Linked DNA regions of Homo sapiens. The protein of the gene in region 4 purifies or fractionates together with the protein of the main gene of each other region. This does not show direct contact. Each region holds a gene or a part of one and is shown on either strand. Other genes may lie near its edges.

Region 1 (3,500 bases), on a different chromosome or scaffold from region 4:
TGAAATACACTGAATTTAGTTAACCAAATTAAGGCTGAGTGAGGTGGCTTGCACCTGTAATCCCAGAGCTTTGGGAGGCTGAGGTGGGAGGACTGTTTGAGGCCAGAAGTTTGAGACCTGGGCAACATATTAAAAAAATTAGCTGGGTGGGGTGGTACGAGCCCAGGAGCTGAAGATTGCAGCAAGCAGTGATTGCACCACTGCATTCCAGCCTGGGCGAGCGAGACACTGTCTCAAAACAAAACAAGAAGGAAAACAAAAGTTGTTCCCATTATTTTATGTGAAGTTAATAAATTTTGAGCACAAAGATTAAAGGCATAAGCCTCAAAAACTAATCAGAAATATTAGTGGTCTATTTAACTCTAACAATGAAAAATCTATCAGTAGAAAAAGAATAGAAAGTATATGCATGGTTGTTTAGTCTTTTATTTGTCCTAGATAGTTGTCTGGAACTTTAATGCATATCTTGTCCAAATTCAAGAAACACAGAGCATTACAGGATTATAACCTGAAATATATTTTACAAATTGATTTATAACTGAAGCTGAACCTGACTAAAAAGTCACTATGATGTAGAATTGCAGGCCTGTCATGGGTTCTTTTTCTCTTAATATGCAACAGAGGCACTTTGGATCTCAATATGCAACACGGGCACTTTGGATCCTCTTTCCTAAGTAAAAAAAATATCTGGAAATAGTATGATGATTATAATGATTACAGATAAAACAATGTCAACATACTTTCAATACAGTTTATGACAATACAACTGTCAAATGATTTCTGAGTTGACCTAAAAATATTATACAAATCACAGACTAAAGCAAAACTCATTCTGCTTTTTATTTCTGTCTTTCAAATTCATTAAATAATAGGTTCCTTTAGTTTGGCTTATTTTGCCTAGTTCAACTTGAATATAATTTATATTATCAGAACTCTTTATAAAAGTATTGAGCCTAAACAATTCTGTTGTTCTGGTCATCTGTCAAATAGATATCTATGCCAACTACGGGTTTCAGAACAGTGTTAAATTTTACATTGACAAAATGTCATCAACCCACCAAACTCTCTTACCTTGGCTACTTGTGTTACTGCACTAGCTGCTAACGCTGCATTTGCAATATCTTCCAGTTTACTTCTTGAAATAGCAGAAATAAAATTTAAATAATATGATTCATATAGTTGATTTCGAAGATCCTATCAATACAATGAAAACTTTATTCTTATAGGATAAAGAAGACCATGAATACATATGTTTCAACTACTATAAGGCAAAGTTATATTTAAAAGACAGGATATTTAAATGACAATCAAAAAAAGTATCCCAAGAGAAAAAACCTTTGAAGTAGTACTGGTTATCTGGTTATCAGATGTAACTAAAATGTTTCTTAATAAAGTAATAAAATTATATTATCAACAAAATCTCATTAATTACAATACAGTACAAACTGCTTTCATACAGCCTATCTGCATTCTTCTTAAAATATCCAGATATGGTCCACTAATATAGTAAAATGCTTGTTATATTTGGCAGACACGATCTTCAACTGTTCTGGACATGTGATGACACAACAAATCCTTCATTGCACACAGACAAGTTATAAATCCAATTACCAATTCTAGAGGTATTTCTTTTCAACTGCTCAAAAGTAGTGCAATTTAAGTTATGCAAATTCTTAAGTCAAATTTACTTATCTTCTTATACTTTTAGCAAATAGATATCGAAATAACCATACTTCCTTAAATCTAAGATGTCATTGACTGTAACAAGAACCATCATTTTATGTAACACTAAGAATTAATGATGCCAATAAAATTTTGTGGCATGATCAATTTTAAGATGCACCTGATTTTAGCGATGTTAAAATGTGAAACATTGAGGGGTTGGAGCCTTTGTGAGGAAGGTGATCAGGGTAGTGGTTCAATCAAGGTCAAGAAATTATTTATGTATGAGGATTGAGAAATAAGTAATATGTTCACGATACTGGGAACCATGTTTTTCACTCTGAGAAAGGAGTTACAAATTTGTAAAGAGAAAAGGGAAACGCTAGAGTGAATCCTGTGTTGCTGAGCTGAAACAGTTTTGGAGGTTATCTGTTTATCTGGATAGGTGAGGGGAAGAGAGGGAGAATTGTAGAAATAAATACAGATATAAAAGTGTATGTATAAATACATAATTTCCTAACTTTTTCCATTGAGAGGACCTAAGAACAGTGACACTCTAGTCACAATGAATATACCTAATGCCTAGATCCTGATTCCTAAATACCATTCTTTACAGAAAGCAACCAGAGCTCCTCAGAAAAATGTCTGAATCCTGGGCTGAGACAGAGAAAGTAAAATCCTAGGCTATATTGGAACATCTTATTGTGCCAGAAAGTAAGGAAGTGGTCAAAGAATGATGCATACATTTCAAAAGGACATATAAGTTCAGCAAGGTTGCAGGATACAAGATAAATACATAAAAATCAATTGAATTTTTATACAATTGCAATGAAGAATCCTAAAAATGGAATTAAGAATTCCATTCATAATAAGCATTAAACACATGAAAGAATAAATTTAACAAAAGAAGCACAAAACTTATGACAAGCTAATCGTAATTTGGAAATTCAAGAAAAGCCAAAACAGTCTGAAAAAAAGTACAAAGTTGGAGGACACAATTTCTCAATTTCAAAACTTGCTATCAAGCAAGAGATATCAACACTGTGTGGTACAGGCATAAGGAAAGACATAGATATCAATGCAATAGAACTGAGAGTTCAGAAATCAAACAAGATATCTGTGGTCAGCTGATTTTTGACAAGGCTGCCAAGACCATTCACTAGGGAAAGAATAGTCTCTTTAATAAATTACGCTGGGACAACTGGATAGCCACATGCAAAAGAATAAAGTTGGACACCTACATCCCACCATATATAAAAATAATGCAAAGGGGAATCAAGACCTACAGGTAAGAGCCAAAACTATAAAATTCTTAGAAGAAAACACAAGAATCTGGAATGGTTTCCTAAATATGACACCAAAAGCATAAGCAACTCAAGAAAAAAAAAAACCGATAAACTGGGCTTCATCAAAATCAAAAATGTTTGTGCTTCAAAGGACATTATCCAGAGAATGAAAAGATAACCCATAGACTGGGAGAAAATATTTACAAATCATAAACTTGTGAGTGTCTAGTATCCAAAACAGAAAAAGAATTCTATCAACTCAACAATAAAAAGACAACCCAATTAAAAACTGGGTGAATGATCTGAATAGATATTTCTAGAAAGACATACAAATGGCCAATAAGCATGTTAAAAGATGCTTAATATCATTAATTACAGAAATGCAAATCAAAACTATAATGAGATGCCACTTCAAACCTATTAGGATGGCTACAATAAAAATATCGGATAGTAAGTGTTCAGCAAGGATCTGGAGAAATCAGAACCCTCACACACTACTGGTGGGAATATAAAATGGTGCAACCACACTTCGCAAAACAGTCTATTACTAAA
Region 2 (3,500 bases), on a different chromosome or scaffold from region 4:
GTAAAATCTTAGCTTAAACCAGTTGTAAAATTACAGCACAGCCTAACACATAAGAATTCATTTGTTGTACTCCAATTTCATGAACTTGGCAGAGTGGAGGTGGGCAGAAAAAGGCAGAATCTTAGTGCATACTGTTGTTGTTGATGTTTTTTAACTAATAGAAACATAGCTCATCAAAACTTGAGAAGCAATGAACACCACAGGAAAAATGAACCTATTTCCCTATATTCAAAATAATAATGCTTTACTCTTATAAAGCCCTTCTTATGAACTCCCACACCAATTCTCATACAATTTCACTAAACATAGATACATAAATAAGTCAGTTGCCACTTTCTTTTCTTTTTTCCTTTTTTTTTTTTTTTTTGGAGACAAAGTCTTGTTCTGTCACCCATGCTGGAGTGCAGTGGTATAATGATAACTCATTGTAACCTCGAACTTCTGGGCTCAAGTGATCCTCCCATCTCAGCTTCCAGAGCAGCTAGGACCACAGGCATGTACCACCGCACCCAGCTAAATCTATATACATATATTTGTAGCCATGGAATCTCGCTTTGTTGCCCAGGCTGGTCTTGAACTCCTGGCCTCAAGTGATCCTCCCACCTCAGCCTCGCAAAGCACTGGGATTACAGGTATGAGCTGCCGCACCCAGCTGATATACCAGTACTTTCAAATAAAAATATATATATATTTTTTTAATTATTATTTTTTTTGAGACAGTGAGTCTCGCTCTGTCGCCCAGGCTGAAGTGCAGTGGCACAATCTCGGCTCACTGCAACCCCCGCTTCCCGGGTTCAAGCGATTCTCCTGCCTCAGCTTCCCTAGTAGCTGAGATTACAGGCGTGCGCTACCACATCTGGCTAATTTTTTATATTTTTTATAGAGACAGGGTTTCACCATGTTGCCCAGGCTGGTCTCAAACTCCTGACCTCAAGTGATCCACCCGCCTCAGCCTCCCAAATTGCTGGGATTACAGGTGTGAGCCACCACACCCGGCCATTTTATTGTTTTACAAATGACTTTTGACCCATGGCTCAAAAGTTTAACAAAATATTCTTATTTGAAAGTAGGAATTTTTATTGACTATTTGTGAACTTAAACAGTTAATGCCACAGATCTACATTTTACAAAGAGTTTTCAACTGTACTCTAAAATTTAAAATTATATCTCTTTATAGTCTTTAAGTAGCTCAGATAATTCTAAACTCAAGTGACCCCAAAATCCTCCCCAAACTAAATCATACTAATAACAGAATAATCTACATTTTAACCTTTAATTATATCCTTCTTGTGAAACTCCTACTTTAAACTTTCATGGGACCATTCTCCCTATTTCCCCTCCTCCTCCTTCCTACTTCAATTGGAGATATCACTTATAAATCAGCCCCTGATCCTCTGCCTTGCTTTATATACAAGGAATTCATCTACCACCTGCACAAATTTGTATCTGTCCAAATCCAACTTTAACTTAGTGAGATACATTTGTTTAGCAACCAAACTAACCCCATCCCCCCAAAAAATATTATCTAAATAGATGCCTTATCAATTAACACCTATCCTAAAACTGACAGGTTCACTTCTACTTCTTCCCTTACTTCCATATTTAATACCAAATTCGATAGATTCTTCCCTTACATCGCTGGTATTGTCCTTGCTTTTCATTTCCCCAGCCATCAACCACTCTAGGTCATTAATTCTCAAAAGTATTACTTCAGTAGCCTCTCAGCTTATCACCTAAGCTACTTCCAATCTCTTCATACTTTATCCAACATACACAAAAAGCTGCCAGAATTCACCACTTCAATTTGCCTACTCAGAAACCCACAGTGGCTCCCTACTGTTTCAAATCCAAATTCCTTGGCTAACTATTCTAGACAGTTACAGTGTAAAGAAACTTTTTAAATTTCATCACCTAAGTAACCAGATTTTTTTTTAACTTCTTAACACTCTGCCATTATCCCCTGATATACCTCTGTCTTTCAAAAGTCACCCCATTTCAATATCCTACCAGTAGTATTATGTAAGGGTTAAGGGTATGGGCTCTGGAATTTGATTTGAATCTGGCTCTACCACATAGTCTGACATTAATTTAACCTCATCTATGTAACAAGGATATTAAACCTGCTTCATAAAGTTGTTATGAAAACTAACATTAATATCCTTAAAGCACTAGGCCAATCTCAAGCACACTCTAAATGATCAATAAATGTTAGCCATTGTCAATATTATTACACAGCCACTATGATGTAAGAAGCCAATCTGATTGCTCTACCACAGGCTATGCATTTGCCTTCACTATTCTTGATTCCCTCAACCACAAACCATGAGAGATGGCATGGGCCTGAGAGAGCAGCTAGTCCAATCACATGTCCATCAGCATTTAGGTCTTGGCTCTGTTGTCTCTCTTGATATTCGACTTGGTGTCTGCTACTGAACAGTATTGTATTGAATAAAAGTGCATGGTACACAGCAAATAATCCTTTGTAAATATTTGTTGGGTAAATATGTTAAGTGCTAAAGAAATACACGGTTAGCATGTATTTTTGTCTTCTATTATAGCTAAAATATTAATCAACTATATGCATCTATAAAACTGTTTCATAAAACTGTTTCTAAACAGTACTGCAAAGCTTCAAATAACTATAGTTTGAAGTATTCAAGCCAGGAATAAAAATCTTTTACTTGGTAACTATCCTCAAATTGATCCAACTAGCAATACTGTATCGTGTGTGTCTGTGTGTGTGTGTGTGTGTGTGTGTAACAAGGTCTTGCTCTGTTGCCAGGCTGGAGTGCAGTGGTATGATCTTGGCTTACTGCAACCTCTGCCTCCTAGGATCAAGCAATCCTCCTACCTCAGCCACCTGAGTAGCTGGGACCACAGATGGATGCCACCAGGTGTGGCTAATTTTTAAAATTTTTTGCAGAGACGAGGTCTCACTATATTGCTCAGGTTGGTCTTGAACTCCTGGGCTCAAGTGATCCTCTAGCCTCAGCCTCCCAAAGTGCTGAGATTACAGGTGTGAGCTACTGCACTCAGCCTATATTGTTATCTTTCTTGCTGCGTTAGGCCTTTCTGAAGGTGAGTATTTACATTCTATCACTCTCTTATCTATCAATAATGCTTGTGTCAATGTTTCATACTTAGTGCTAAATAAGCAGTTATGAATTCCACAAATTTTCAACATAAAAATAAAGGCATCATCAAAATAATGTGTAAAAAGATAATGACGATATGCAAAACAGTAAATGAAAAGCTAAGATTTAAAAGTTGTCAAAGAATCGGCCAGGCATGGTGGCTCACGCCTGTAATCCCAGCACTTTGGGAGGCTGAGGCACACAGATCACGAGGTCAGGAGATCAAGACCATCCTGGCTAACATGGTGAAACCCTGTCTCTACTAAAAATACAAAAAATTAGCCGGGTGTGGTGGCACATGCCTGTAATCCCAGCTACTCGGAGGCAAGAGAATTGCTTGAACCCCGGAGGCAGAAGTTGCAGTGA
Region 3 (3,500 bases), on a different chromosome or scaffold from region 4:
TGTCCTGCTTGTTTACTGTTTGTTTACTGTCTACCCAGACTGTGACCTTCAGGTCTTGGTTACCACCGGGTCCCTAGAGCCCAAAACTCTAGGCACATAGTGAATGCTCAATAACCACCAGAGGCTAAATGAATAATCTGCACGCTGGCTGGAGCTGGCATCAGTAGAGCCCGCAGGACATGGCCCCTGCCCTTGGGGAATGAGCCTTCTGGTGGGGAGGCAGACACTGAACAAACAGGACACTCCCAACTTCACTGTGCAAACACGAACTGTAATAAGGACTGTGGGGATGGCGTTGGGAACTTTAAAAGGACATTCTTTGTTGACTCCTTATCAGGAAATATGTCAAGCTCTCCGTATGATTAACCGTATTATTTCTCAAGCCGGTGCCTTTGATATGATTCACCATCCCTGCTTTACAGAGGAGGAAACTAGCTCAAAGCGGCAAACCACTTGCCATAGGATACGGGCCTGGTTTCTTTCTTTTTTCTTTATTTTTTGGAGACAAAGAGTCGCGCTGTCACCCAGGCTGGAGTGCAGTGGCACTATCTCAGCTCAGTGCAACCTGCGCCTCCCAGGTTCAAGTGATTCTCCTGCCTCAGCCTCCGCAGTAGCTGGGATTACAGGCACCCACCACCATGCCCAGCTAATTTTTTGTATTTTAGTAGAGACAGGGTTCCACCACGTTGCTGGTCTCGAACTCCTGAGCTCAGGCAATCCACCTGCCTCAGCATCCCAAAGTGCTAGGAGATTACAGCTGTGAGCCACTGCACCTGGCCATGGGCTTGGTTTATTTCAAGGCAGGATTCCCATTTAGGGGCCTTGATGTATTCTGGGGTGCAGGTGGGATTCCCTCCACCACCTGGGGCAACTCAAAGTTGTCTCTCTTACCTCCAAGCCTTAACATATGCCATTCTGTCTGTCCAGATCGTAGTTCTTCTTTGCCTAGCAAATCCTTATTTGTCCTTCAGGACTTTGGCTCATGCGTGACCCCACAGTCCCCTGGGCAGCTCCCATCCTGGACTACTCTGGGCCGTCACTGTCTGATGACAGGTCCAAGTCCTTCACGGGTCTGTGGGTCACTGCTCTGTCCCCAGCACAATGCGGGACAGGATGCAGGGTAGGCACTCATGTAACACTTGTAAAATAAATTTGTGGAATAAAATACGTGAATAAAATAATTAAACAGCCAGTGGCCCAGGCCACTGCTTTTCCCCTGGGCCATCCCAGCAGCCTCCTCCCTGGTCTCCCTGTTCCCATCCCTGCCCATACCTGTAGTGGGAGGGAGCCTGGGATCATCTGAGTCCATCAGGGTCCTCCTGGGTGGTCCCTCTCTGCCCTCATCAGCCCTGCACTCCCTCTCCCAGCTCCCGCCTTGGTCGGTGCCTCTGCTCAAAATGCCCTTCCTCCCAGACATCCACATCCACATCCACAGGGCTCCCCCACCTCCCTCAGGTCTCTGCTCAGTGGACACCTTCCCTACCTCCCTATTTAACACCCCCTACCCCGCCTCCCGATCCCCCTCCCTGCTCTCTTTCTGCAAAGCAAGTCTCCCTGCTGCCTCCCGGGACCTTCAGTATTTCCCCCTAGTTCTTATCCTTCTCTCCCCACCCCCAACCCCCACCCACGATGTTGAGTGTCCCCATCACCTAGAGCAGGGCCTGGCGTACAGGAGGTGCTCCGTGAGCACATACTGTTGGGGATGGCCTGGGTGATCGGCCCTCCTTCCCCGCCCCCCATAGAACTTGGGTTCCAGCAGGTGCACGACTCCTTGGACCCTGCAGGTCTCCAGGGCAGCAGCCTGGAGTGTGGGCCCCACAGTCCAAGGACCTTCCAGTCAAGTGCCACCGCGTCCTTTCTGTGTGACCCTGAGCTAGTGTCTGAACCCTCCTGTGCCTCAGTTTCCTCTTGGGTATGATGGGAATTAGTGCCCACCTCCTAGGGTTGCACAGAGATGGAGGTGAGGTGAGATCCACAAAGCCCAGTACCTGGAGGGCACCTGGTTTAACTACGCTGCTTTCCCTCCCACAGGGACTGGCGGACTAAGATGGAGTGTACAGCGCGGCTGCCAGCCCAGTGCACCACTGCCCATGACGCTCTGCTGACCCTGACAGGGACCTCACAAGCACTACGCCTGATGTTAGGCGCCTCCATGACTGACCCTCAACTCCAGCCTTTCACCTCTAAATACCCTGCACCCGCCACAAGGAAGTGAGCAAAGCCCATACAAGCCCCTGCCTGCAAGGACCTGACGCTGAAACAGGGAAACATAGACCGTCAGTAAGAAAACAAGTGAGCAGGGATGGCGACCTCAGACACTGGTGAACGCCATAAAGCAATGCTGCTCAGTATGAGCCCCAGAGAGCAGCAGGCAGGACTTGGAAAGTGTTCAAAAGGCAGAGTCCAGGACCCACTCCCAACCTTCTGAATCAGAACTGGGGTGGGGCCAGAGATTCCGACGCACATTCAAGTTTGAGGACCACAGAGATAAGGGATGGGACAACTAGGGGGGCAGAGATGCTTTTTAAATTTTTTTTAGAGACACGGTCACACTCTGTCACCCAGGCTGCAGTACAGTGGCAAAATCATGGTTAACGGCAGCTCCGAACTCCTGGGCTCAAGGAATTCTCAATCCTCAGCCTCCCAGGTCACTCCAGGCCCGAACTCTTGGGCTCAAGCGATCCTCCAGCCTTAGCTTCCCTGATAGCTGGGACTACAGTCTCACACCACCATGCCTAGCTGATTTTTAAAGTTTTTTTGTAGTGATGGGGTCTTGCTATGTTGCCCAGGCTGGTCTCAAACTCCTGACCTCAAGTGATCCTCCCACCTTGGCCTCCCAAAGTGCTGGGATTACAGGCATGAGCCACTGTGCCCAACCAATTTCTTTAGTAACAGTCAGCAAAAGCCTTCCTGAACAAAGCCCACTTGTTCACCTGAGGACAAAGAACACATGTGGCAAAGGCTGGGAGAAGACTCCAGGTGGAGAACATCAAGCTCAGGGACAGGACTGAGCCTGGCAGGTCTGAGTGTGAGTGAGGTGGCCAGTGGGGCTGAGGGAGTAGCGGAGGTGCACAGGCCTGGTGACCCTAGTCAGGAGTTTGGCTTCACCCAGACAGCACTGGTGAGCAGGGAGAGACTCCTAAGCAGCAGGACCACATCCTCCCCTGCCTGCTTTTCTCAGCCCTCTAGCCTGAAACACAGACCTGCCCTACTTTCCCGCAGCCACAGATCTAGGGGCAGGGCCTGGGGGCCGGAATCCTGAAGAGAGGCTCAAGGCACACAGACAGGGCAGGGACCACGCCCCCAGTTTTTGCTCCAGGGCTGGGCAAAGAGGAAGTACTCAAGGGCGGACCCTGCGGCTGCCCAACCAGGATAGCTGAAGGCAGAGTGAAGGGAGGAGCCTGGGGGACTGTTATAGGGGCGAGGAGACTCGGAAGGGATGTTGTTTTGCTTCCGCAGACACCTGACCTCCAACTTCCTAGGCCCCAGTGGACCCAGAG
Region 4 (5,395 bases):
TCTTTTTGTGTTTTGGAGATGGGGGTTCACTGCAGGCTCGAACTCCTGTGCTCAAGTGATCCTCCTGCCCTAGCCTTCCGAGTAGCTGGGACTACAGGCATGCACCATCACACCAGGCTAATTTCTTTGAGATGGGATCTCACTATGTTGCCCAGGCTGGTCTCAAACTCCTGGCCTCAAGGGATTGCCCTGCCTCAGCCTCCCAAGTAGCTAGTATTACAGTCGTGAGCCACTGTGCCTGGCTAGGTTTTCTAAATAAAATATTTAAAAAAAATTAGCCGGGCAGTAGTGGCACGCGCCTGTAATCCCAGCTACTCGGGAGGCTAAGGCAGGAGAATTGCTTGAACCCAGGAGGCAGAGGCTGCAGTGAGCCAAGATTGCACCACTGCACTCCAGTCTGTGTGACAGAGTGAGACCCTGTCTCAAAATAAAAAAGTAAAAGCAATAAAAAAATAAAAATAAAGCCTACTGATGCCCATGCTGCAGCATCACCCAACTCTCTAACCCTTAACCCCTCCAGACCATAAGCCCTACCTCCCCAAGTCTCCTTAGCTCAGCCTCCCGTTTCGTTTCTCTCTCAGAAGCTGCACAGATGTCATCTGCTGCGTCCTCTTCCTGCTCTTCATTCTAGGTTACATCGTGGTGGGGATTGTGGGTGAGTTTCCAGCTGCTCAGAGCCAGGGCAGTGGGTGAGGGACAGGAACCCAGGGAGGGACCATTCCCATAACTGCCCCACTAAGTCCCTGCCCTCCAATGACTCATCTGTGCCTCTGTCTGCAGCCTGGTTGTATGGAGACCCCCGGCAAGTCCTCTACCCCAGGAACTCTACTGGGGCCTACTGTGGCATGGGGGAGAACAAGTGAGTACAAAGGCGAGAAGAGGAGTGCAGGAGCGAGGCGAGGTAGGGTGGGCAGGAGACACCCCCCCAACTCAGGCTCCAGACCTGTCCGTGCTCTTCCACAGCCTTTCCCTGCTGTCCCCACCCCACCTCAGCCTCCCTGAATCTGACAACTCCAGGCCACGTTAAGAACCATTGCTGGACAGTTAGCTTCTTGAGTCCCCCCAGAAATGGGAGGCAGTGGAGAGTCGTGTTAAGTGTATGAGTTTTACAGTTCAGAGATTGGTGTTTGGATCCCCAACTGGACCAAGTTTTGGTTGTGTGGCCTTGGACAAGTTACTCAAGCTCTCTGAGCTTTGATTTCCTTATTTGAAATTCAAGGGGAATTCCAGAAGCAATGCCAACAGTCCTCACATACAGATGTCCAATAAATAATAAAACCTCAAATATTTATATAGCATTTACTATGTTCCAGGCAGGCAGTAAACTTTACACACACAAGCGCATTGAAATCTCATGAGGTAGGCACTACTGTTTTATATGGAGTAGAACTAAGACCGAGAACAGGTGACTTGCTCAAGATCATAAAGATGATATGAAGTTGTGGAGCTCCAAGTTCATGCTCTGAGCTATTTGTCAGCTGCTGCAATGGTGACTTACTCTGAGAGATCTTCTAGGCATCTCCCTACCTCCCCAGCTGAGCTAGGGCCAGGAGCTGGGAGGTGACTGGTATGGGCCACGCTGGGCTGGGCCCACTGTATTCTTGAGAAGCCACCCTAGTGGTCCCTCCCCTCCCCCAACACCTGACCAGGCCCTGATGCACATGGTCCCTCCCCTCCCACAGAGATAAGCCGTATCTCCTGTACTTCAACATCTTCAGCTGCATCCTGTCCAGCAACATCATCTCAGTTGCTGAGAACGGCCTACAGTGCCCCACACCCCAGGTCAGAGCCTGGGACCTGCCTCTACCCCAGATCTCACCCAGGGTCTCAGGTTCCAGCCCCTTAGTGTTCTCTCTGCACCCAGGTGTGTGTGTCCTCCTGCCCGGAGGACCCATGGACTGTGGGAAAAAACGAGTTCTCACAGACTGTTGGGGAAGTCTTCTATACAAAAAACAGGAACTTTTGTCTGCCAGGGGTACCCTGGAATATGGTGAATATTGCCCCTAACCTCATCACTGTCGCCCAGAAGGGCCAGGGTGGGCACGAGAGGGAGGGGGAGTTGGGTAGATCATCACCAGGTTGGCTCTCCTGGGGAGTGTGGGACAGGCTGAGCCCCATGGTGGTGGTGAGGGGACCTGCTTCTTCATCCTGCTCTGTGTCTGTGTGTCTGTCCTTTCACTCCTGCCACAGACGGTGATCACAAGCCTGCAACAGGAACTCTGCCCCAGTTTCCTCCTCCCCTCTGCTCCAGGTGAGAAGCACAGATTCCTTCCTCAGACGTCATCTAGTCCAGTGTTTTCATTGCTTGAATGAAGAAATCAGGCCCAGAGAGAGTGAAGTCACATAGCTTGTTGGTGGCAAAATTGGAATTAGCATCAGGTCTTCATTTTGCTCTTTGTTATGTGGCCTTGCAGTCAGACCATCAGTGTTTTGGGGACCTACTATGTGCCAGGTGCTGGGGACAGAGGCAGGGATAACAACTGCTCCCTGCTTCAGCTACATTCTAGGTGAAGAGATTAGAGTTGTTCACAAAGAGACTGTATGAAAATCTCATGAAAACATACATGGGTGAATCTACACACACATTTTTTTTTTTTTGACGGAGTCTTCCTCTGTTGCCCAGGCTGGAGTGCAGTGGCGTGATCTCGGCTCACTGCAACCCCCGCCTCCCGGGTTCAAGCGCTTCTCTGCTTCAGCCTCCCGAGTAGCTGGAATTACAGCACATGGTGCCCGCCACCACGCCCGGCTAATTTTTATTTTTATTTTATTTATTAAATTTATTTATTAAATTTGTATTTTTAGTAGAGACGGGGTTTCACTATCTTGGCCAAGCTGGTCTTGAACTCCTAACTTCGTGATCCACCCACCTTGGCCTCCCAAAGTGCTGGGATTACAGACATGAGCCACCACGCCCAGCCTGCACACATATCATTTTTATATATGCACAGGGAAAAGGCTAGAAGGATATTTGTTCAAATGTTATAAGTGAACGTGGCTGGGTGGTAGGATCACAGTTGAACTTTTTTTCTTTTACAGTGTGCTCTTCCTTCCAGTAGCAAATGTCTTTTTTTTTTTTTAAGAGATGAAGTCTTGCTATGTTGCCCAGGCTGGTCTTGAACTCCTCGATTCAAGCAATCTTCCCACCTCAGCCTCTCAAAGTGCTGGGATTACAGACATGAGCCCCGACACCCAGTTGCAAATGTCATTTTTAATATAAAACAATTTTTAGGCCAGGCATGGTGGCTCATGCTTGTAATCCTAGCACTTTGGGAGGCTGAGGCAGGCAGATCACCTGAGATCAGGAGTTCGAGACCAGCCTGGCCAACATGGCGAAACCCTATCTCTACTAAAAATACAAAACTTAGCTGGGCGTGGTGGCATGCACCTCTTATCCCAGCTACTCAGGAGGCTGAGGCAGGAGAATTGCTTGAACCCGGGTGGCAGAGGTTGCAGTGAGCTTTGCAGTGAGCCAAGATCGTGCCACTGTACTCTAGCCTTGCTGACAGAGCGAGACTCCGTCTCAAACAAAAATTTTAGGCCGGGAGCAGTGGCTCACACCTGTAATCCCAGCACTTTGGGAGGCCGAGGCGGGCGGATCACAAGGTCAGGAGTTCGAGACTAGTCTGGCCAACATGGTGAAACCCCGTCTCTACTAAAAATACAAAAATTAGCCAGGTGTGGTGGTGGGCACCTGAAATCCCAGCTACTCGGGAGGCTGAAGTAGGAGAATTGCTTGAGCCCAGAGGCGGAGTTTACGGTGAGCCGAGATGGTGCCACTGCACTCCAGCCTGGGCAACAGTGAGACTCCATCTCAAAAAAAAAAAATTAGACAATTTATAGCATAAGATGAGATATCCAGTTATCAATTTAAGTACAGTAAGGAGTATCTCAAGTGAATACTTCAAAGTCAAGTAGATCTGAATATAAATTCTAGCACTTTCCAGCCCTATGGTCTTGACCCAACTATGCAACCTCTCTGAACCTTGTTTCCTCATCTTTAGAATGTAAATGACAGTGAGGTGCAGTGGCTCATGCCTGTAGTCCCAACTGCTCAGGAGGCTAAGGCGGGAGGATCACTTGAGTCCTGGAGTTGGAGGTTACAGTGAGCTATGATTGTGCCACTGCACTCCAGCCTGGGCAATAGAGTGAGAAACCCTGCCTCTAAAAAATAAATAAGCTAGGTGAGGTGACTCACACCTGTAATCCCAACACTTTGGGGGGCTGAGGTGGGAGGATTGCTTGAGCCCAGGAGTTTGAGGCCAGCCTGGGCAACACAGCAAAACCCCATCTGTACAAAAAATTTAAAAATTAGCCAAGTGTGGTGGTGCACATCTATAGTCCCAGTTGCTTGGGAGGCTAAGTGGGGAGGATCGCTTGAGCCCAGAAGTTCAATGTTGCAGTAAGCTATGATCATGCAGCTGCACTCTAGCCTGGGTGACAGAGCAAGACCTTGACTCAAAAATAAGAAAATAAATAAATAAATAGATAAATAAATGACAAAGCAAGGCTGCCTGGCAAAGTTGTTGCAAGGATGGCAGTAAGTGGCTCTGTAGGCACATAACAGTTGCCAAAGGAGGTGGGGATAAGGTCAGAAGGCTTCCTGGAGGAGGTGAGATGGAGCTGGATTTGAACAGGGAGTCATGGATGGGATTTCTGGTGGAAAGAGAGCCCTGAGAGAGAGGCACAGTAAGAGCAAAGGTACAGAGTAGAAGGGAACATGGGCTGGATTTGCACAGGAGAGCCTGGAAGCCTGGCCAGGGAGTGTGGATGCTGTCTCTGGGGCAGAGCCTCTGGAGATGTCTGAGTCACAAAGGGACCCAGAACCCTGGAGTGATGAAGTCCAGGCAGTGCCACGGTCTCCCTGGCACTCCACTCGGGTGGAGGGTGGATGGAAGGGTGACAGGGTGTTCTAAGAGTTGAGGCCAGCGGAGAGGAGGGTCCAAACCAAGGCACGACAGGGAGGGGAGGCAGGGGATAGACTGGGCTCCACAGGGCAGAAGCCCATTTGTGAAATCAAAAGCAGCCCACTGAGGGATGCAAGGCCCATCACCCTTCCCTCCCCTAAGGGCACTGTGGACTGGGAGGGGGCCAGAGACCCTCCAGGCAGAGCTCCTGGCCCCCAACCCAGCAGCCCGGCTCTCCCTTCCAGCTCTGGGGCGCTGCTTTCCATGGACCAACGTTACTCCACCGGCGCTCCCAGGGATCACCAATGACACCACCATACAGCAGGGGATCAGGTAGGCACCTCCCTCCCCCACATCCTGGCCACACCCCTTCCACCCACAGCCCCATCTGACTCTGTCTCCCCAACAGCGGTCTTATTGACAGCCTCAATGCCCGAGACATCAGTGTTAAGATCTTTGAAGATTTTGCCCAGTCCTGGTATTGGATTCTT

Evidence for each region. The genes of interacting proteins can lie anywhere in the genome.
Region 1: the proteins of SLC44A4 (region 4) and SCFD1 purify together in Homo sapiens (affinity purification with mass spectrometry; one large-scale study listed by BioGRID and IntAct). This does not show direct contact.
Region 2: the proteins of SLC44A4 (region 4) and SLC25A12 purify together in Homo sapiens (affinity purification with mass spectrometry; one large-scale study listed by BioGRID and IntAct). This does not show direct contact.
Region 3: the proteins of SLC44A4 (region 4) and GRAMD1A purify together in Homo sapiens (affinity purification with mass spectrometry; one large-scale study listed by BioGRID and IntAct). This does not show direct contact.

What each region holds. Positions count from the first base shown.
Region 1 is NC_000014.9:30,635,819-30,639,318, reverse strand, and holds part of SCFD1 (sec1 family domain-containing protein 1), read right to left. Parts: intron 1,195-3,500; coding exon 1,072-1,194; intron 1-1,071. UniProt on the Homo sapiens protein: Plays a role in SNARE-pin assembly and Golgi-to-ER retrograde transport via its interaction with COG4. Involved in vesicular transport between the endoplasmic reticulum and the Golgi.
Region 2 is NC_000002.12:171,887,745-171,891,244, forward strand, and holds part of SLC25A12 (electrogenic aspartate/glutamate antiporter SLC25A12, mitochondrial), read right to left. Parts: intron 1-3,500. UniProt on the Homo sapiens protein: Mitochondrial electrogenic aspartate/glutamate antiporter that favors efflux of aspartate and entry of glutamate and proton within the mitochondria as part of the malate-aspartate shuttle.
Region 3 is NC_000019.10:35,003,323-35,006,822, reverse strand, and holds part of GRAMD1A (protein Aster-A), read right to left. Parts: intron 1,492-3,500; exon of another isoform or gene 1,273-1,491; intron 1,139-1,272; exon of another isoform or gene 915-1,138; coding exon of another isoform or gene 892-914; intron 1-891. UniProt on the Homo sapiens protein: Cholesterol transporter that mediates non-vesicular transport of cholesterol from the plasma membrane (PM) to the endoplasmic reticulum (ER).
Region 4 is NC_000006.12:31,871,316-31,876,710, reverse strand, and holds part of SLC44A4 (choline transporter-like protein 4), read left to right. Parts: intron 1-581; coding exon 582-655; intron 656-780; coding exon 781-859; intron 860-1,682; coding exon 1,683-1,782; intron 1,783-1,864; coding exon 1,865-1,990; intron 1,991-2,190; coding exon 2,191-2,251; intron 2,252-5,149; coding exon 5,150-5,237; intron 5,238-5,313; coding exon 5,314-5,395. UniProt on the Homo sapiens protein: Choline transporter that plays a role in the choline-acetylcholine system and is required to the efferent innervation of hair cells in the olivocochlear bundle for the maintenance of physiological function of outer hair cells and the protection of hair cells from acoustic injury.